Linked DNA regions of Homo sapiens. The protein of the gene in region 1 interacts with the protein of each later gene in a pairwise test. Each region holds a gene or a part of one and is shown in the gene's direction. Other genes may lie near its edges.

What was found. Proteins that work in one complex are often made in the same cells at the same time.
Region 2: the proteins of GALNT15 (region 1) and CISD2 interact in binary tests that used the Homo sapiens proteins (3 or more experiments, as listed by UniProt).
Region 3: the proteins of GALNT15 (region 1) and EVI2B interact in binary tests that used the Homo sapiens proteins (3 or more experiments, as listed by UniProt).

What each region holds. Positions count from the first base shown.
Region 1 is NC_000003.12:16,170,477-16,177,684, forward strand, and holds the start of GALNT15 (polypeptide N-acetylgalactosaminyltransferase 15), read left to right. Parts: upstream 1-4,203; 5' UTR 4,204-4,675; coding exon 4,676-5,214; intron 5,215-7,208. UniProt on the Homo sapiens protein: Catalyzes the initial reaction in O-linked oligosaccharide biosynthesis, the transfer of an N-acetyl-D-galactosamine residue to a serine or threonine residue on the protein receptor.
Region 2 is NC_000004.12:102,865,031-102,872,004, forward strand, and holds the start of CISD2 (CDGSH iron-sulfur domain-containing protein 2), read left to right. Parts: upstream 1-3,961; 5' UTR 3,962-4,054; coding exon 4,055-4,157; intron 4,158-6,974. Other genes in the region: UBE2D3 (ubiquitin-conjugating enzyme E2 D3), read right to left, coding at 3,685-3,714. UniProt on the Homo sapiens protein: Regulator of autophagy that contributes to antagonize BECN1-mediated cellular autophagy at the endoplasmic reticulum.
Region 3 is NC_000017.11:31,304,042-31,311,066, reverse strand, and holds part of EVI2B (protein EVI2B precursor), read left to right. Parts: intron 1-5,436; 5' UTR 5,437-5,457; coding exon 5,458-6,804; 3' UTR 6,805-7,025. UniProt on the Homo sapiens protein: Required for granulocyte differentiation and functionality of hematopoietic progenitor cells through the control of cell cycle progression and survival of hematopoietic progenitor cells.

The sequences.
Region 1 (7,208 bases):
CAAAGGGGAACCTGCACCTGCAGGGATTACATGGCGAGAAAGGGATTAAGCAAGAAATGGGGGCGATGCCAGCCTCCTTTTAACAACCAGATGTCACAGGAACCAACAGAGTGAGAATTCATTCACCCGGTCTCCCTCTGCTCCAAGCAGGAAATTCACCTATTCATGAAGGATCCACCCTCATGACCCAGACACCTCCCATTAGGCCCCACCTCTAACACTGGGAATTAAATTTCGACATGAAGTTTGGAGGAACAAACATTCAAACCATAGCACCAAGTCAAACAAAAAAATGCCTGGGGTTAAGTTATTTGGGGAATTGCCTCTCTAGCTTCCCTTATTCTTGCTCTTTTCACCTCAGCTTGAGATGGGAAGAACAGCGACTGGGCCGTTGATGACATCTTCTTGAATTGCTTGGGCCAGGTCTGCTATTGCTTTGCAGAATTTTTTGTTTTTCACTAGCTGATGTCTACTGTTCCTTTCATGAATACTCTCAGTCTCTGATTTGTTCTGGCACTTTAACCTGCCATCCATCTGAACAGAAAAATTTCATTTTTTTCTAGGAAAACAGCAGAATTGTTAACACCAAAGCTGCCATGGCTTATGAGAAAACAGACAGATGAAAAGCTAAAGAGAGAAACATACAGAAACCCCAGTGGCGGTCTAATTGGGGTGTTGATCATCTCACCTCTCTGAGCAATGAGACAGCCTGGAGGTTAGATCAACAATGCTCTGAGTCCCAGGAGAGACCCACGGCCTGCATCTGGGACTTCACCAGATCTAGTTTATCTTGAACTGGAGCCAAGAATCCCAGGCCAGAGTCACCCAGCCCCAGTTCTTTTGGGAGCCTTTTTTCATGGGCTGTCTCTGTCATGGGAAGGCCATGGGCTGAGGAGGTTAGTGTGATGCCTAACCTCACTAGAGGTTGAGGAAGGAGATGGAATGGGAGAAGGAGAGATGGAAATGACAGAGCTAGAGCAAGAGTTGAGAGAAGGCAGAGGAGGGTGGGAGGGTGGGGAGGGCAAGAGGAACTGTATCCGTTTCCTGCGGCTGCCATAACAAAGTCCCACAAGTGGGTGGCTTAAATAACAGAAATGTATGATCTCACAGTTGTAGCAACAAGAAGTCCATGATCAAGGTGTTGGCAGTGCTGGTTCTTTCTTAGGACTGTGAAGGACAGTCTGTTTCATGTCTCTCCTAGCTATCAGTGATTTCCTGGCCATCTTTGATATTCCTTGGCTTTTAGATGTGTCACCCAGGTCTGCCCTCTTCTTCACATGATGTTCTCTGTGTATGCCTGTCTCTGCCCAATTGTCCCCTTTTTGTAACAATACCAGTCATATTAGATTAGGGCCCACCCTAACAACCTCCTTTTAACCTGATAATCTACAAAGATCCTATTTGCTGTCAAGGCCCCCTTCACAGGTTCCCCAGCAGAGGCAGGGCTTCAGTGTAATTTTGGAGGACACGATTCAACCCATGATAGGAGCAAGGGTGAGAAAGAGAGGAGAAGGGAGCAAGGTCTGGGCCTCATGTGCCAAGTGATGGTGGGGGATGGGAAGAACTGGCAGCAAAGCTGTCAGGGACAGCAGCAAAGGCCTGGGGAGTGGAAAAATGTGCTTTGTGTACTCTGGAAAAACAGCAGTGAACAAGCAAACAAAAGCCCTACCCTTGTGGAGCTTATGTTTTATGGGAGTGGGTGGAGAAACAGACAATAAACACCTTAGTATTTTAATTTTCCAGGTGTTGAGAAGAGCCACAGAGATTCTCAAAGAAAGCCCCATGTTGATGAGGGGTTTCAATGTAGAATGGGGGGTCCACGAAGCCTTCACTAAATAGGTGACATTGGAGTGAACACAAAAATGAAGAAATGAGCCACATGGATGACTTTCTGGGGAACACAAAAATGAAGAAATGAGCCATATGGATGACTTTCTGGGGAAAGAGTGCTCAAGCAGTGGGCTGGCCAGGGTGACAGCCCTGGGGTGGGCTGTTCTTGGTAAGTTCAAGCACAGCGTTGCTAGAGATGAGTGGAAGATGGTGACTCTGCACACTCAGTTTTCTGAAGGCCTCCTGGATTTGGAACCTTCTAATCCTTCATCCTCATTAACCTCAAAATGTCCCCAGATATTCTGAACTACATCTCCCAGGGTGTCTGCCTCTTGAATTTGGAAATGACACAGTATTCCCACCTGGCAATACACCGTGATTTGAGATTTGGAAGACACAATTCAATCCAGAAATTGCTAAGCACTGTCCACTGGGGCATTACAATGGGATTCCAGGAGAACAACCACACATAACCCACTATTTCACCTCTGACTTCATGAAAACACACGTGTATACATGCTTGTGCACGTGAGTGTGCACAGACACACCACACACACTGGAAGAAACAACTGAGTCAAAAGGTAAAACATTTTTTTCCACAAACATTTTAGCTGACATTCTAAGATCAAAATAAAGACAAAAACAATGAGCAAGTTCATTGCAGGACTTCCCCAATGGCAGTTTTCCCCCCTCCACTCTTGGTTGCAGACAGCATGGCTGCTTTACAGCCATCAGAAGAAACACTGCTCATGGTGATGGTCAGCTATCCTTCAACCTGTTCAAGCCAGAAGCCTGAAAACTGAGCATGCTGGATTCTCTTCTCCCTTCTACCTACCTCACTCCCTCAGTGATCTCAGGTCTCACGGCTTCAAACACTATCTGAGTGCTGCTGGAGTCCAGCTTTGTATATGCAGGCCAGACCTCCCCCTGACCTTCAGCTATCCTACAACTGCTGCCTTCACTTCATCTCCTCTTAGCTGTCTAGAGGACATCTCGAATGTCACATGTTCCAAATCAAGCCACTGGCATGCATTCATCTCCTTCCACCTTCTCTCCTTCCCCATCTTGGTTAATGGCAAGTCTATTCTTCCAACTACTCAGAACAAAAATTTGAACTCATCTTGACTCTTCTCTTCCTCTCACATTAGTCATTAATTCATCAGCAAATCCTATAGGTTCTTCCTTAAAGTATATCCACAAGCTGACCCCTGTCACCACCGATGCCACTTAGTGCAAGCCAAGAACCTCTTGGTTGGTCTCCCTGCTCCTGCTTTTTGCCCCCCACTGATTAGTCTCAACCCAGCAGCCAGAATGATCCAGTTAAAACCCAAGTCAGATTGTGTCTCTCCTCTAAGGGCTCCCCTCTCACTCAGAGGAAAAGCCAAAGTTCCTTCAATGCAACCAGGGGGTGTCCTGCATGGTCCTCCTGCCCCCCGCCCCCTTGCCTCTCTTATTCCACTTCCCATCAGGCTCCACCCTGCTCTCTTTGCTTCAGCCATGCCGGCTGTTCCTCAGACATGCCAGCATACTCTTGCCTTGGAACCTTCACATTTATCATTCTGTCTGCCCCGAACACTCAACCTCAAATAGCTGTGCAGCCCTCTCCTTTACACAAATGGTAACTCTTCCATGAAACCTTTCTCCACCACTCAATGTCCATTTCCAAGCCCAGCCCATGCTCCCCAGCCCCATCCCTGCTCTGCTTTTTTGCCTTCATCCTCATCACTATCTGACCCAGTGGATAGTTTTAATTGTATCTGTCACTAGAATGCAAGCTCCATGAGACACACATTTTTGTCTGTGTTATTCATTGCTCTACTTCCAGTTCCCAGAACAATTTTGGCACATAGCATGTGTTCATTAATTATGTGTTGGTTAAATGAAGGAAGCTTTATGAGGGAAAGAGCATGCCACTCCTCTTCCAGCGTCCCCCTTGGTGGCCAGGGCAGAGCAGGCATTCAGCTGCTCTTGTGGGAGAAGAAGGGACTTGCAAGATCATCTCCCTTAGCTCCCTCATTTTCAGGAGGCCAGGGACAGTGGTCCCCAGGAAGGGAAGGAGAGTCCAACCTAGTTTGCCTGATCCCCCATGGGAGGCTGAGGTTGCAAACAGACAGCTGCAGCTCCTTGCAGCTATGCCACACACACAGCCTTTCTGAATCAGAGGGTATTAGTCTTTCCTTCTGAACTCTTGGGATATTCCTGTTTTGATTTGGCTCTAGCAGTGACCACACCGAGTTGTGCAAAGCCTGGGAACAGTGAGGGCATTAGGACCAGGAGTGACGCGCACGCTTGGCTCTGGGTTGTGTCTGGCAGAGGGCTCTCGGCTGAGTGGAGCTATGTGTGAAAGGAAACCAGGCACTGCCTGCCGGCTTTACATCTGTTGATCTGACCTGACTGGAAGCGTCCAAAGAGGGACGGCTGTCAGCCCTGCTTGACTGAGAACCCACCAGCTCATCCCAGACACCTCATAGCAACCTATTTATACAAAGGGGGAAAGAAACACCTGAGCAGAATGGAATCATTATTTTTTTCCCAAGGAGAAAACCGGGGTAAAGGGAGGGAAGCAATTCAATTTGAAGTCCCTGTGAATGGGCTTTCAGAAGGCAATTAAAGAAATCCACTCAGAGAGGACTTGGGGTGAAACTTGGGTCCTGTGGTTTTCTGATTGTAAGTGGAAGCAGGTCTTGCACACGCTGTTGGCAAATGTCAGGACCAGGTTAAGTGACTGGCAGAAAAACTTCCAGGTGGAACAAGCAACCCAGGTTCTGCTGCAAGCTTGAAGGAGCCTGGAGCGGGAGAAAGCTAACTTGAACATGACCTGTTGCATTTGGCAAGTTCTAGCAACATGCTCCTAAGGAAGCGATACAGGCACAGACCATGCAGACTCCAGTTCCTCCTGCTGCTCCTGATGCTGGGATGCGTCCTGATGATGGTGGCGATGTTGCACCCTCCCCACCACACCCTGCACCAGACTGTCACAGCCCAAGCCAGCAAGCACAGCCCTGAAGCCAGGTACCGCCTGGACTTTGGGGAATCCCAGGATTGGGTACTGGAAGCTGAGGATGAGGGTGAAGAGTACAGCCCTCTGGAGGGCCTGCCACCCTTTATCTCACTGCGGGAGGATCAGCTGCTGGTGGCCGTGGCCTTACCCCAGGCCAGAAGGAACCAGAGCCAGGGCAGGAGAGGTGGGAGCTACCGCCTCATCAAGCAGCCAAGGAGGCAGGATAAGGAAGCCCCAAAGAGGGACTGGGGGGCTGATGAGGACGGGGAGGTGTCTGAAGAAGAGGAGTTGACCCCGTTCAGCCTGGACCCACGTGGCCTCCAGGAGGCACTCAGTGCCCGCATCCCCCTCCAGAGGGCTCTGCCCGAGGTGCGGCACCCACTGTAAGTAAGGCCCTTGTTTTCCCTTCCCTGATCCCAGGGCATGATCGGGTGGTAGCAAACTCGGGAATGCAAACTTTCCGTAGCCTGCCTCTCCTGACTTAGAGCAAGTGCTTTTCAAGATGCAGTACCTGGGCCAGCAGCGTCAGCAGCCCCTGGGCACTGGTGGGTTCTCAGAAATGCAGATTCTCAGACCCCATCCCAGACCTGCCAAACAAGAAACTCTGGGTGGGGTCCAGTGGTCTGTATGAACAAGCCCTTCAGGTGAGAATCATTGTCCTAGAAAGCAGAAAGTGAGGACTCTTGCTTGTTCATTCTCTTCTCCGTCCTGGGTTCTAGTTCTTCTGTCTTTAGGTCAAATGGCTTTATTTCTATAACACAGAAGGGAGGTTAGAGCAGACATTTGCCAGTTCTAACACTCTGACTCCACTACATTTTGATTTTAGGGTTATTGTTAGTGTTTGCTTTTAGTTTGGATCAAAATAACAATTGCAGTTTACATTTAGGGGGCTCTTCCCATGCGTCTGGATTTACTTTACAAGCTTTTAATGTATTAACTCATAAAGTCCTGGAAAGTCCTCACAGCTCTGCAAGATGGGTGCTAGTAGTATCATCATGCTTATTCTATAGGTATGAAAACAAGGTGAAGTTGCTTTCCCAGTCACGCTGCTAGTAGGTAACAAAGTCAGGATTTGAATGCAGGCATGTGAGCTCCAGTCTGCCTGACCCACCACTCCATGCCACCTGCCTTGGGCCACTAGACTAAGGAAACAGGTCCAGTGCCTGAGAGCCAGAATACTGTGCTGACTGCAATTTACCCTGCCAGGGCAGCCCCAGCCCCAGGAGGTAAGCTGAGAAGTGTAGGTGATGGGCAGAGCTGTGCCCAGGGAGATGCTGGCCCATCCTCCACACCCCCTGCTCCCTTACTGTCACCATGGCTGACCACTGAGGAGGGAGCCTTGGTTACCAGCATCCAGGGAGCAAGGCAGCTTGTTAGTTTTAGTTTGGTGATTTAGGTCCCTTTTCCTATAGGCCATTGCTCCTCCCAGAGCCTGGAGAGTTTCCTGGAAAGCAAACATTTGTGCAGGGCAGCAGTTGGAAGCAGGGCCACACACTCTTCGGATCCCTGATCTAGTTCCCCTCAGCCTGGCTGCTCAGCCACTCACACTCGAGGGTGTGCAATTGCAGGGTCAGCAGCCGGGAGTGAACATCTCCTTAAATTGTGTGCCCCGGGTGCCTCACTCACCGCACCCTACTTCCATTTCAAACCCGCTACACTGTTTTCAAGCCTTACCTTTAAAAGCTATTTTCAGGAAATTCCCACCCCATTCTAGTTTTGTGCCCTCCTTGCACCCTGGAGTTTTAACTCACAGCACTTACAAAACTAAAGCCAAATGATTATTGATGTATTTATCAGTCGAATGCCTGCTTTCCCTGCTATGCTGTGAGCCCCTTAGAAGGTCAGGACTGAGTTTGTATTGTACATCCCAAAGCCCAACATGCAGTAAAGAAGTGATTGCTGAATGAACAAACATAGTTTTCAAATTTTTTGACACTATTTTTCACTGGCCTGGAGCAAGAGTGAGCATCCTCTTTTTGCCGATAAGAAATAATATTGCCTGAAACGAGAGGGTCTGTGGCTACCAAAGTGGTCTGTGTGTGTGACTGTGTGTTTGCATAGTGCAAATGTGTGGTGAATATGCATATTTGTGGGTCATGGTATATGTATGTTCGTGCATGTGTGTTGTATATATTCTCTGTGTTGTGTGTGCATTGCATTATGTGTATTAAATGGATGTCGTGCATGTATGTGTAGTACATGCAGGTACTGCGTTATGTGGTGCCTATATGCTTGGTGCATGTTACTTTGTGTATGTGATATGATATGCACAGCTATGCATTGTGCAATGTGTCATCTTGTGTGCATGTGTGTTAATGTGCATGTATTATGTGCATGGTTCATATATGTATTGTGTATTGGGGTGATGCCACATGCA
Region 2 (6,974 bases), on another chromosome or scaffold:
AAGCCCTAATATGAAGAATATAAGTTTAAAACTTTTAGCAAAAACACAGGTGAATACCTTTGTGATTTAGGGGTAGAAAAAGATTTCTTAAACAAGACTCCCAGAACACAAATTGTAAAGAAAAAGATGAATAAATTTGACTACACCCAAACCAAATTTCAGTATAAAAACAGACATACACGGCCAGGCACGGTGGCTCACGCCTGTAATCCCAGCACTTTGGGAGGCAGAGGCAGGTGGATCATGAGGTCAGGAGTTCAAGACCAGCCTGGCAAATATGGTGAAACCTCGTCTCTACTAAAAATACAAAAATTAGCCGGGAGTGGTGGCGGGCGCCTGTAGTCCCAGCTACATGGAAGGCTGAGGCAGGAGGATCACTTGAACCTGGGAGGCAGAGGTTGTAGTGAGCTGAGATCGCGCCATTGCACTCCAGCCTGGGCAACAGAGACTCTGTCTCAACCAAAAAAAAAAAAAAAAAAGACATACACTAGGAGAAGATAAGCAACAGGAAAAGATAAGCAACCAATGTAACCAACAAGGTAATATTTTCCAGAAAACATGTACCAGTGAAACTGATGAACAAACCAATAGCACAGTGGGCAAAGATGTCAAGAGCAGACTAGTAGGCATTTGGAATTAGACTCCTAGAATTAAGATTAGCCTAAAGAAATCTGGGCTGGAAATAGAGATTTGGGCTATATCTTAACGATCATATTTGAATTTGGGGCACTGGATGACCTAATGGGAAAAAAACATGAAAGAAATAAAAGTCTTGGGCCTAGCTAGGACAGGCAGAAGATGAGTGATCCAAGCTCAAGTGCTTGAAAGTAAATAATGACTCCTTTAACTGTATTTACATATTTATCTTGAGTTTTCTGACCACAGTTTCTTTATGTCTTTTAAAGATGGAGTCTAAAAACACTATCGCATAAGGTGGTCAGATAAGCCTATTACATCTATTTAGAGCAATATTATCTTTAGACCATGTTTCATGTGCAGCCAAGAAGGCAGGGTTGTGGAAATGAAATACAAATATAAATGAAAACAGGATTTAAATTTTAAGTAAAGGGAATTTAAGAAAATATTCCTTTTAAGTGGATAATAAGGATTTTTAAATTGGTGGAGTTAGGAATTATCTCCTATTACACATTCGCATAGCTCATGTAATGCATCAGAATACCTAATATATGATCCACACCTTTTCTCTGAATTTCAAGGCCTCCCAAAAAAGTTTTATCCATATAGACTTGCATTCACTACATTTTTTCTACTTGAAAATAGCAAACCAGCTATTCACATAAACTGCTAAGAGGAAGTAAGCCAACCATAAAAAATTACATACTGTAAAATTACTTATATGTGAGGGTCAAAAACATGCACAGCAATACAGAATAGTAGTAATGGTGGTGGATGTGGTTGGAAGGGTCGCTTTTTAAAAACGCCTCTATTGAACATTCTGTATATTGATGTGGGTGGTGGTTACCTGGAACTGTACATTTGGCATTTGAGCATTTTACTATATCTTTAAATTGAGGTATGTATTTTTTAATTCTTTAAAGAAAAACTGCTTGGAGGTCTTATTCTTAATGCACAACAATCACAAACATTAAATTTATACAGTCCAGAGAATGTAAAGTTGCTTTAAAAAAATTCTTTCCTTTTCTCACTTTAAAATACCAAGGGGAAAAATTAAACTCAACACAGCACGTCTTGCCCTTGTCAAGATGACAGATCCTCTAAGAGAAGAAACGAATAGGTAATGGCCTTTTCCAGATTTTCTTTTCCTAATGTACCCCACTTCCAACCTACCCCTACCTCAACTAGGGTATCTAGTTGTACCCAAGGGTGCTTCTACATTAGATCCACAGAGATTAAAGATAACAGTTAACAGAATAGTCCAGAGGACAAGGATATTCAAGTTCCATCATCTTCAGGATAAAAAAGCTCCAGGGTTTACCTCCAAACTCTCTCTAAAGGAAATCCCATCAACCTTTTAAACATCACTTTGTATACACCATCTTCTATACTGCCCTAGCTCAAAAACATGAACCTGTATCTAAACGTGTTTGTAGAATTTCCATTGTAAGTTTTACTTTAACAATTTTGAACAATTATAATGATAGAAAATTATTTAATCTAGATTTTGGTCAACTCTATTACTGATATTCTTTTTTAGTGAAGGACAATCACAAACACTAAATTTATACAGTCCAGAGAATGAAAGATTGCTTTAAAAAATTCCTTCCTTTTCTCACTGTAAAATAAAAATACCAAGGGGAAAAATGGAAAGTATTTATTATAACTGGCTGTTACACTGTCATACACAATGAAATACTGGACCATTAGCAGTTCGTTATTATATGTTGTTAAGTGTAGAACTGTAAATAATGAGGCATATTATTAAGATATCACACACATTATCCAATCAGCAAGTGCACAACTTCGGACATTTTGACTTCAGCCAAAATATGAAACAAAGTCATAGCAAGAAAGTTATTTCAAGGGAGTGAAATTTTCTCCTCTTACCCTTCAAATCTTTTAGAGATATTAATAAAAACAACTATCCAGCCTGGGCGATATAATGGGACTCCATCTACATACACACAAAAATTTTTAAAATTCGTTGGGTGTGGCAGCACACGCCTGTAAACCCAGCTACTTGGAAGGCTGAGGCAGAAGGATCCCTTAAGCCGGAGTTAGAGTCTGCGGTGAGCTATGATCTGACCACTGCACTACAGCCTGGGCGATAGAGCGAAACCTTGTAACAACAACAACAACAACAAAATTAAAACCTTCAAGATCAAGCTTGCCCAACAGGATGGCTTTGAATGCCACTCAATGCAAATCTGTAAACTTTCTTAAAACTTTATGAAAAAAAATTTTTTTTTAGCTCATTAGCTACCATTAGTGTTAGTGTATTTATGTGTGGCCCAAGACAATTCTTCTTCCAGTGTGGCCTAGGGAAGCCATAAGGACCCCCTGCGCTAGACTTCAGCAGAAGCCTTGTAACATAAAGAAAACCATACATAAGGCTTTAGATTCTTTTTTTTTTTTTTTTTTGTGACGGAGTCTTGCTCTGTCTCCCAGGCTAGAGTGCAGTGGCACATTCTCGGCTCACTGCAACCTCCGCCTCCCTGGTTCAAGCGATTCTCCTGCCTCAGTCTCCCGAGTAGCTGGGACAGGCACCTGCCACCGCGCCCGGCTAATTTTTCTATTTTTAGTAGAGACGGGGTTTCACCATCTTGACCTGGCTGGCCTCGAACTCCTGACCTCGTGATCCACCCGCCTCGGCCTCCCTAAGTGCTGGGATTACAGACGTGAGCCACCGCGCCCGGCCAGCTTTGGATTCTTTTACCACTTTCCCGAAGGAAAAGGAACTGAAAATATCTAAGGAAGGACTACTACGAATCTTCTCTGAGTGGCAAAAACCAGAGGTTTTTGGAGCTAGGGCTGCAGTTAAGTTGCCAAGGGGCAGAGATGTAAACAGTTCCTGGTTTAGTTAAAATATTTTAATTTTTATTTTTTTAAGCCTGGCCTTTGGGTGAAGGAGTAAAATTAGGCACTGGGGTCTGGGTAGGGGGAGGATACTCATGGGCGAGTATGCAACCCTAGGGCCACAGCACCCAAACTGTAGGGGAAGAGGCGGGGCGAGAGGGGACGAAGTAGAGACAGCAAGAGACTCACTTTTGAAAGGCACTTTCGGTTAGAAAGCATTCTCACATGCTTATCTCATCGCACACAGTATCCTTTCTGCTGGTCTCCAGCATCTACAGACGTTAAAGGCCCAAGAGGAGGGCCACCTTCACACGAGATTCCGAGGAGGGCCTCGCTACCCGCCAGTTCCCGCGCCTCGGCAGTCCGCCGCGAGCGTACGTCACTCGCCCGCCGCCAATCGGCGCCCGGCAGGTCACCTCTCCTCCCAGGGCCCGCCGCCCCGCCCGCCGCCCAGGCCGAGGCCGCCAGTGCCCGCCGGCCGCTTCCGCTCCCGGCGCAGGCGCGGCAGCTTGGCCAGAGCGGAGGGGGCTCGGGAGAGGAGTGGACGCCGCTGGCCAGGATGGTGCTGGAGAGCGTGGCCCGTATCGTGAAGGTGCAGCTCCCTGCATATCTGAAGCGGCTCCCAGTCCCTGAAAGCATTACCGGGTTCGCTAGGCTCACAGGTAATCCTCCCCCATCAGCCAGTCCCCATCCTTGCACGTTCGCCAAGCGGGGGAAGGAGGCGTAAAAATCCTAGGGCCAAGGGGCGGGACGGAGCTCGGCGCCTGGCACGTGATCCCCGCGCGCAGAGGAAGGTGGGCGCGCGCCGACGCAGCTGCCTGGGGAACGCCTGTGAGGCAGTCTCCGGGTGCTTGATGCCCCAGGGTCTTTTGTCCTCGGAGTTGTCTCCGGTGTCATTCCGTGGCAAGATACCAGGTTTTTGCAGAGAAGGTGCTGAGTTGGGAACAGGCCAGTCTCTTTCATCTCCTGTCCTGCTCATCGCTCTCTGTAGCGTACTTGTTTATTTTAAAGCGGGCTAAGTCGTCGTTATCTAAGGCCTCATGTAACAGGCAGCCCCAGCTACCGGCTGGGTTGTACCCTCAGCATGTGGGTGGGAGTGTGTGGGAGAGAAATATAGACTTACACGTAACACGTATATGACCGTTTTATTTAGTAACGAAATTAGGAGATAACCTCCATTCCCTCAGGTTAGAATTGACCTATCATAGGTGGCATTTGAGGTCATCTCCGTTTCTACGGTCCCGGGGCCCGCTGCGGTAACTTAAGTTGGAAGAAAGATACCTTACCCAAGAAAGTATTCGAAGGCCGGTATGAGGAGTGAAATCTTAGAAAATGAAATTTAGTGAATATATGTAACGTTCTATACTTAAGGACCCTCACTTAACCCACACAACTCATGAGGATTTCACATCTAAAGGATGAAAATCTCCAGAATGCAGTCAACACTTGGGAGATTGTGTTGAGTTATGAGCATTTCATTGTAAGGGGGATATTTCTAAACGGAACTCAGACCGAGTAGGATGGTGAAGGAATCAGCAAGTATTGAACTCCTATGTCCTAGGTTATCAGGGAGTGCAAACATGAATTAAGATAATTCTGAGGTAAATAGGGTTGCTTCGCCGGGAACGTTCTAAAGATCTGTAGTACCTGACCTAAAATACAGCAATCGCACAGCTGTCTGGTAGAAGAAAAATAAGATTTGTGTAGACTAAAATATAGAACTGATAACAAATTAACCAAATTAGTGAAGGTTATTGGGAGGTGAATTTCAGTCTAAGGAAGATTTTTTTTTAAATTAAAGAATGCTTTCCCCAAACAAATGTGGTGCTTCAGTGATAGCCCCTCTCAAAGATGAAAAAAACAAACAAAAAGACTCTGGTGGTGGGTGGTCGATAGATTTAGAAGGGATAAACTAGATGACAAATTCTCTTCCAAATCTAGAGATTCATTGAATTATGGTCAGACAGACGCTCTGTTGAGTGGATTGTGAGATTTTAATATTTTTTAAATATTAAGAGTTTTAGTAGAAAACATGCAATTGAATAGAAAGCATGGTAACAATAATAAACATTAAAAAGGAACATTAAACATCAGAAGCAATGCAAAAGTAAAATAAAATGAAAAACGTTTCACATCAAGTGTTTATAAACATCAGATCTTTTGATCCTACCAGTTTACTCTGACAGAATTGCAGCAATTCCATAAAATTTTGGCTTTCCCCACTTCTTTTACTTAAGTACTTTACATATTTTAATATAATCCTCATTTTTTCCCTAACAACTAAATACTTATTTTAGTTTTAACATCACAATGGGCCTAACCATTCATTCCCTTACAACTGGAAATTAGAAATGTTTCTATTTTTTAAAATTCATTATGTAATAGTTCATTGGCAAGTAAGCAAATACCAGTTGTCATATTTCTCCCTTTTGGATGTCTTCACTTAAATAGCAATACCAGGCCAAAACGGTATGATCATATTGTGACTTTTGTACCCTTTTGTCATTTTGACATTTGTACCTTCTTACTAATTTGCATAAGTTAACTGTTGAGGAATTTTTAACAGTCAAGAAAGGAAAATGTCCAATGAATTACCTATGTTTTTTCCAGATGGTGGCTGCATTTGTATTAGTTTCGATTCTCTGTAAATCAAGTATAATTGAAGAAAATTAGAAAGTATGAAACTAGATTTAATGGCTAGATTTTAGAAGTATGCTTTCTTTTCTTGAGGATCCCTAGTGTCAACAAATATTTAATTCCTATTAAAGACATTAAGAAAACTCAACCAAAACCTTTTCTCTCTTAAGAATATATAGTAACTTCCTCTTAAAAGTTGTTAAATATTTAATATGAAGACTGATTCTCAGAAATAATGACCATTCTGAGAAGTATTTTAATAACATACATTTAACTTAAGTCCCATTACAGTGTGGCTATAGTTAATAGTTCTCATTTTATTGCTGGTTTATTTAGGAAACATGAACATGCTTGTAATAACTGGTTTATGAAAAACATGAGATAGCCCTTTTTGGATTGGACAAAACAATTGCAGGGTTTATTTTGGAGTACTATAGAAGAAAAATTTCAGTGGCTATTTTCCACTCTCGGTCTCCCATTCTGAATAGATTGTAACAGTTAATGACATTTGGCTTTCTTAAATGAGTTACTTGTAGAATCCATAATGTACACTTTTGTTAAAATAAAAACCTGGAAGACAACTTTTTAGCAATTGTTTAAAATGTCTAGGAGACCAAAAAATATTTCCATTTTCTTCTATGAAAATTAGAGCAAAAAACAATACAGTTCACATTATTATTGCCTACATTTCCTTCCCTATTTAAATCTAGCTGTTTTTTAAAGCTATTGACTCTCTTATGATGACTCTGCATTCTTAGAAACCACATGGAGATCTTTAATGACCATATACTAGTTAAATACAGGCAGTTCTCACCTATCAGAAACAACTTAACTATCTTTGT
Region 3 (7,025 bases), on another chromosome or scaffold:
GAGGTGTGAGGAGGATCGCTTGAGCCCAGGAGGCAGAGGCTGCAGTGAGCTGAGATTGCACCACTGCACTGCAACCCGGGTGACAGAGTGAGACCCTGTCTCCAAACGGAAAAAAAAAAAAAAAAAGAACATGTCTTATACACGGGGACTCCTGCTTCACTGTAACTGTCTTTAAAATGTTTAAATTTATGTTTTTCTTTTTAAAATATTCTAAATATTCAGCAAAGAAAAAGAACCAAAATCACAGATTTAAACCTCAAAGTGCCAGCCTATAATAATGAGTAAAAACCGGCATATGAGGGCTGACAAATTTGCTTGAGCAGCAGACTAAGGGATTTCTGGAAAACTCTATATAAAACGTACACGGGTACATGGGTTCTTTGGAATAATTGCTAGGTATGCTTCTGGATAGTGTCAGGGAAAAAAAAAGGGAGAGGATGGTAAGGATACTCACAGCAGACAGGAGAGCCTGAAATGAAAGGTAAATGAATTTGAAAGGATGGTTCCTTCTGGTCCTCCATTTTAGAAAGCAAGCTCCTCTTTACTGTCTCCCTGCACTCACAAACACAGGCCAGCCACAACAGAGCAGCATTTTGCCGTTGCTTCTTTCATCTACTTCAATCATCTCCCCCCACCCCCAACTTCATTTTGCCTACTTCAATCATCTACACTGCCTTCTTGCTAATTATATAACCACTGCTTTTTTTTTCACCTGTTTATTAACTTTTCTTCTTTTCTGTATCTTCTCTAGTCAATTGACCTTCCTCTTTTCTGTTCGCTGCTTCCTAGAGTTTTTGTTTTTTCTCTTTTGTGTTATTTTGTATTTCTTTGCATTGCCTTTTATATTATTCTAAATCTCCTTTTTATTCCCCTGCCCAATATTGTTCTTTACCTACAGAAACAATGTTGGTACTTCAGGTACACACCACTTACATATTTTAAAATGTGTATGCTAAATAACCTTCCACACTGGTAGTAACGCTGGCCTCATTACCGCTGGGAAAAAAGTCAGTTTTTTCCACTACCATATTCCCTATTTATTCCTCTTTTAAATCTTTCTTCTCCTTCTCTGGACTACACTGAATTGCCATCATAGAATTCTAATACAGTTTCTAGTACTCTGATGTGGCAGATCCTAGGAGGATAAAAAGCTAACTGAAGAGTGGTAGAAAGTGTTAGGATAGGCAAAAAATGGAATTTGGTTTTAATATTGCCATAACCGTTAACTGACAAGTGAAAATCTCATACATGGAGGGTTCCACCAGCTTACTACTGACAGTAGAGGATAGGAGCCTATCAAAATTGATCTTACAAACTAACCTGGGTTTAAAATTATGTTCCTGTTTGGGCCCTGTCCTTCTCTAATGCCTTTTTCAGCTAACTGAAAAGAGGAACCGTATGGTTTCCTTATTTTAAGCAAAGTCACAAAAGAGGAAACATTTTTGGCTAAAGACAATTCATGGCTTATATTTTCTGATGCTTTGCATAGCATTAAAACAGATTTTTAAAATGAAGTTCTGAAGAGAATAACATTTTCTAAAGAAGTCCCCCCGCCTTTTTTTGTAATCTATAAGAATAATGGGTAGGAACTGCATGGATGATGACCATCCAGAGATTATTCAAATCCCTATATCTATGCCAAAAGTGTTCAAATTTTCCCTTTTAAATCTTTTGCAAAATGGATAAAAAGCAGAATTTATTAACTCAGATTTCACTGCCTCTGCTTATTTTCTGGTAGAAGTACTAGTAAAAAGCAAAAACTAAAATGGAAAGGAATCAAGAAGCCCAATACAGGTTAAATGTTTACTGTGCTCCTAATATATAAGGCATTAACTACAAAGAAATCAAAATATAAAAACATGAGGCAATAAAGGGTAGCAGAAAGAATGTATGCTTTGGAATCAGGTGGCCCTGGGTACAAACTCCCAATCTGTCACTTCGAGTGGTATAACATCAGGCAAACTGCTTAACTCATTTGACACTGTCTCTTTATCTGTAAATAAGGGATCCCTTTACCTTCCTTATAAAGTCATTTGAAGGTTCTGTGAAATAAAGTATGCAAAACTGGGATAGTACAACACATAATATGCTCTAGATAAGTATTTTTCTTTCTCCTTTCTGCCTTCTTCAAGGTTCTTTATAATCTTGTTCAAGGAAGTAGGTATAGGAAAATGTGAAAAGTAAACACAATTACTTAAGAGAATAGAAGTGTGAGTGAGATACATACATGAATTATGTAAGGAACCATAAAAACAATAAATGAGAGCTAGGGGGAATTCAGTAAATGACTGATCTGTTTGGGCTGTAGTCAGTCACAGAGAACTTGGGTTAAGAAGGGGAATTTAAACTGAGGTCTGAAAGATGAGGACAGATTCAGATATGCAGCCAGAAAGGGGAAGAGGCTAGGTCTGGAAGAAAAATAAAAAAAAAAGAACACCCTTGAGAAGGGTAAAAAACAGCATAGAAGTGTCTGTTTAGCAGGGAAAAATCGTGTGTTTAGAAAGTATGCAAGGTGGGAAAGGGATGCATTTGGCTGGATAAGAAGTTTCAGTCATGATACGTGAATCTGGACTGGTTAACTCAAGCCAGAAGGAAGAAAACTCAATTTAGAAGTTTTATCTTAACAGGCCAGGCGTGGTGGCTCATGCCTGTAATCCCAGCATTTTGGGAGGCTGAGGCGGACAGATCACTTGAGGTCAGGAGTTCGAGACCGGTCTGGACAACATGGTGAAACCCTGTCTCTACTAAAAATACAAAAATTAGCCAGGTGTGGTAGTGTATGCCTACTGTAGTCCCAGCTACTCGGGAGGATGAGGCACAAGAATCGCTTGAACCCAGGATGTAGAGGTTGCAGCGAGACAAGATCATGCCACTGCACTCCAGCCTGGGTGACAGAACGACTCTGTCTCCAAAAAAAAAAAGAAAAAGGAAGTTTTATCTTAACAGAAATTAAACCCTCAAGCAAGGCAGTAGTAACCTGATCATGCACACTTTTAAGATTAATTCAGCAGTGTGCAGGAGAGTTCAAAGGAGAACTGTTTTAAAATTCAGGCTTGAATTATTCGTATAGGGAAAAAAATCACATATCTTTTCTTCTACTAAAACAGGGCCATTTATCATCACTGTGTACCAAGTGGTAGAGGAGTAAGCAATGATATGCTGTTTAGATATGCTGAAAAGGTAATTTGTAAAACCTTTATTGCACCTTCCAACAGAACATCAAATCTCTCTAAATATAGGCTTATGAGTCAGAAGAACTATAGTTTCTAATCATGTATACCAATATCTAACACCCTAAGATTTTCTATTCCCTAATGTTAAGAGATAACCAAATAGTTGCCATTGTGTTTGATGATGTGCAAAACAAGTATATTATACCAAAAGTTGCAAATTGTCTCAGTAGAACTCTTCACTTTAGAGGAAAGGCAATTGAGAACAGGAAAGGTTAAGCAACTAGTTCTCATGGTTAGACAGGTAGTTAGATGGGAGAAGTAGAACTGAAACTTAACTCTCCAAGTTTTAGCATCTACCACATCCCAGAAAAAGCCCTATCTGCCAAACTTTCATATGTGCCTTATTTTCCTGTGCCCACATTGTTGCTCTCCCTGGCTGGAAACTTAATTAGTTTTTATAGACTTTTAAAATTCAGTTCAAGCTTTACTTCACTGAAGCCTTTCCAGGCTAGGTTAACTTCTCTGTACATCTCCTGCATACTTTTATGAGAAAGCTTATCAAATTATTGTAATTGGGCCAGGCGTGGTGGCTCACACCTGTAATCCCAGCACTTTGGGAGGCCAAGGCAGGCAGATCACCTGAGGTCAGTTCTCGAGCAGCCTGGCCAACACGGTGAAACCCCGTCTGTGCTAAAAATACAAAAATAGGCCAGGCGTGGTGATGTGTACCTGTAATCCCAGCTACTTGGAGGCTGAGAGAGGAGAATCAGTTGAACCTGGGAAGCGGAATTTGCAGTGAGCCCAGATTGTGCCACTACACTCCAGCCTGGGTGACAGAGTAAGACTGTCTTGAAAAAAAAAAAATTATTGTAATTATTTTTTAGCTTTTTTTCTTTCTTCTTTTTATTTAGAGATGGGATCTTACTATGTGGTCCATGCTGTTCTTGAACTCCTGGCCTCAAACGATCCTCCCATCTTGGCTTCCCAAAGTGCTGGGATTACAGGAATGAGCCACTACGCCTGGCCTTTACTGTTTGCTTCTATCACTAGAATCTGAAACACTTAAAGGCAGTGACTATCTTTTTTTTTTTTTTTTAATCTCCTAAACCTAGAACAGAGCTCCACACAAATGTGGCATTTACCAATAGATGAATGAAAGCAGCAGCAGGACTACTTGACCAACTGGATTGAATTTACTCCACCAGATTCAGAGATCACTCTAGGATTTTAAGCCTAAGACTCTGAGTTGAATGAAATTCTTTAAAAATATGCAATATTAACATAAGGCTACCACGCTACAGAGACACTAAGGATGCTTCAAAGATTACTAATAGACTCTGTGCCTAAGAAACTTAGTGGTACCATTAACAGATACAGAGAAGTTGGGAGAAGAGTCAGTTGTCAGTTGTGAGGGTAAAGATGAACTCCATTTTAAATATGTTGAATTTGCTGATAGTGGGAGATATTTATATCTATATCTATGTCTATCTATCTATATATATAAAATATGGAAAAATCCACCAAGAAGTCACACAAATAGAATTAGGACAAAGAAGATGTAGGCTGGAGGTACAGGTTTAGGAATTGTGGCATAAAGCTGAGAACTAAAATCTTACAGAATCAGGAACAAAGAAAAGTAGGTAAGGGTGAGGACAGAATATCAATTAACCATATTTAGGAGGCAGAAGAAAAAGAGCTAGTGAGAGTAACATGAAAGGAAGACTGATTACAAAAAGCTACTTGAATATTAGTGAAGGAACAGTAGTGTCTAATGTGGTCAAGGAGGGGAGGGGAGAGAAGAAATAAAGAACAATTAGATTAGGTAACAGATGATCACTGGTGTTCTTCAAGGCAGGAGAATCAATATATTTCTAGTAGAAAATGGTGAAAAAAGGTAGAGAACACATGGATCCAGCATATAGAGCCTATGCGTTTTGAGAAGTATGACTAAGTGAAGTACTGAAATATAATGAAGCTAGAGGGGCAGCAGAGCCAAGTACAGAACTTGTATTAATAAAAGAAGAGAGATCACTGCTTATGAGGTCCAAATGCTGTATGATGGGTTAGAGTATATCCAAGAGTTGTTACACCAAACCTACAGTGTATCAAGTCTAAATTAGGAATAATAACTACTAATCAACTACTACTAATTAGGAATAATGTCTACCTACTTTATGCCAGGAATCATAATGAAAAGTCAAATTTTTAACTAGACACCAATGACGCCTAACTGTCTTTCTCTTTCATTATAAACCCGCTATAGATAACGAGGAAATATTCTGAAATGGATCCCAAATATTTCATCTTAATTTTGTTTTGTGGACACCTGAACAATACATTTTTTTCAAAGACAGAGACAATTACAACAGAGAAGCAGTCACAGCCTACCTTATTCACATCATCAATGTCACAGGTATTGGCTAATTCTCAAAACACAACAGGGAATCCTTTGGGTCAACCAACACAATTCAGCGACACTTTTTCTGGACAATCAATATCACCTGCCAAAGTCACTGCTGGACAACCAACACCAGCTGTCTATACCTCTTCTGAAAAACCAGAAGCACATACTTCTGCTGGACAACCACTTGCCTACAACACCAAACAACCAACACCAATAGCCAACACCTCCTCCCAGCAAGCCGTGTTCACCTCTGCCAGACAACTACCATCTGCCCGTACTTCTACCACACAACCACCAAAGTCATTTGTCTATACTTTTACTCAACAATCATCATCTGTCCAGATCCCTTCTAGAAAACAAATAACTGTTCATAATCCATCCACACAACCAACATCAACTGTCAAAAATTCACCTAGGAGTACACCAGGATTTATCTTAGATACTACCAGTAACAAACAAACCCCACAAAAAAACAATTATAATTCAATAGCTGCCATACTAATTGGTGTACTTCTGACTTCTATGTTGGTAGCTATAATCATCATTGTACTTTGGAAATGCTTAAGGAAACCAGTTTTAAATGATCAAAATTGGGCAGGTAGATCTCCATTTGCTGATGGAGAAACCCCTGACATTTGTATGGATAACATCAGAGAAAATGAAATATCCACAAAACGTACATCAATCATTTCACTTACACCCTGGAAACCAAGCAAAAGCACACTTTTAGCAGATGACTTAGAAATTAAGTTGTTTGAATCAAGTGAAAACATTGAAGACTCCAACAACCCCAAAACAGAGAAAATAAAAGATCAAGTAAATGGTACATCAGAAGATAGTGCTGATGGTTCAACAGTTGGAACTGCTGTTTCTTCTTCAGATGATGCAGATCTGCCTCCACCACCTCCCCTTCTGGATTTGGAAGGACAGGAAAGTAACCAATCTGACAAACCCACAATGACAATTGTATCTCCTCTTCCAAATGATTCTACTAGTCTCCCTCCATCTCTGGACTGTCTCAATCAAGACTGTGGAGATCATAAATCTGAGATAATACAATCATTTCCACCGCTTGACTCACTTAACTTGCCCCTGCCACCAGTAGATTTTATGAAAAACCAAGAAGATTCCAACCTTGAGATCCAGTGTCAGGAGTTCTCTATTCCTCCCAACTCTGATCAAGATCTTAATGAATCCCTGCCACCTCCACCTGCAGAACTGTTATAAATATTACAACTTGCTTTTTAGCTGATCTTCCATCCTCAAATGACTCTTTTTTCTTTATATGTTAACATATATAAAATGGCAACTGATAGTCAATTTTGATTTTTATTCAGGAACTATCTGAAATCTGCTCAGAGCCTATGTGCATAGATGAAACTTTTTTTTAAAAAAAGTTATTTAACAGTAATCTATTTACTAATTATAGTACCTATCTTTAAAGTATA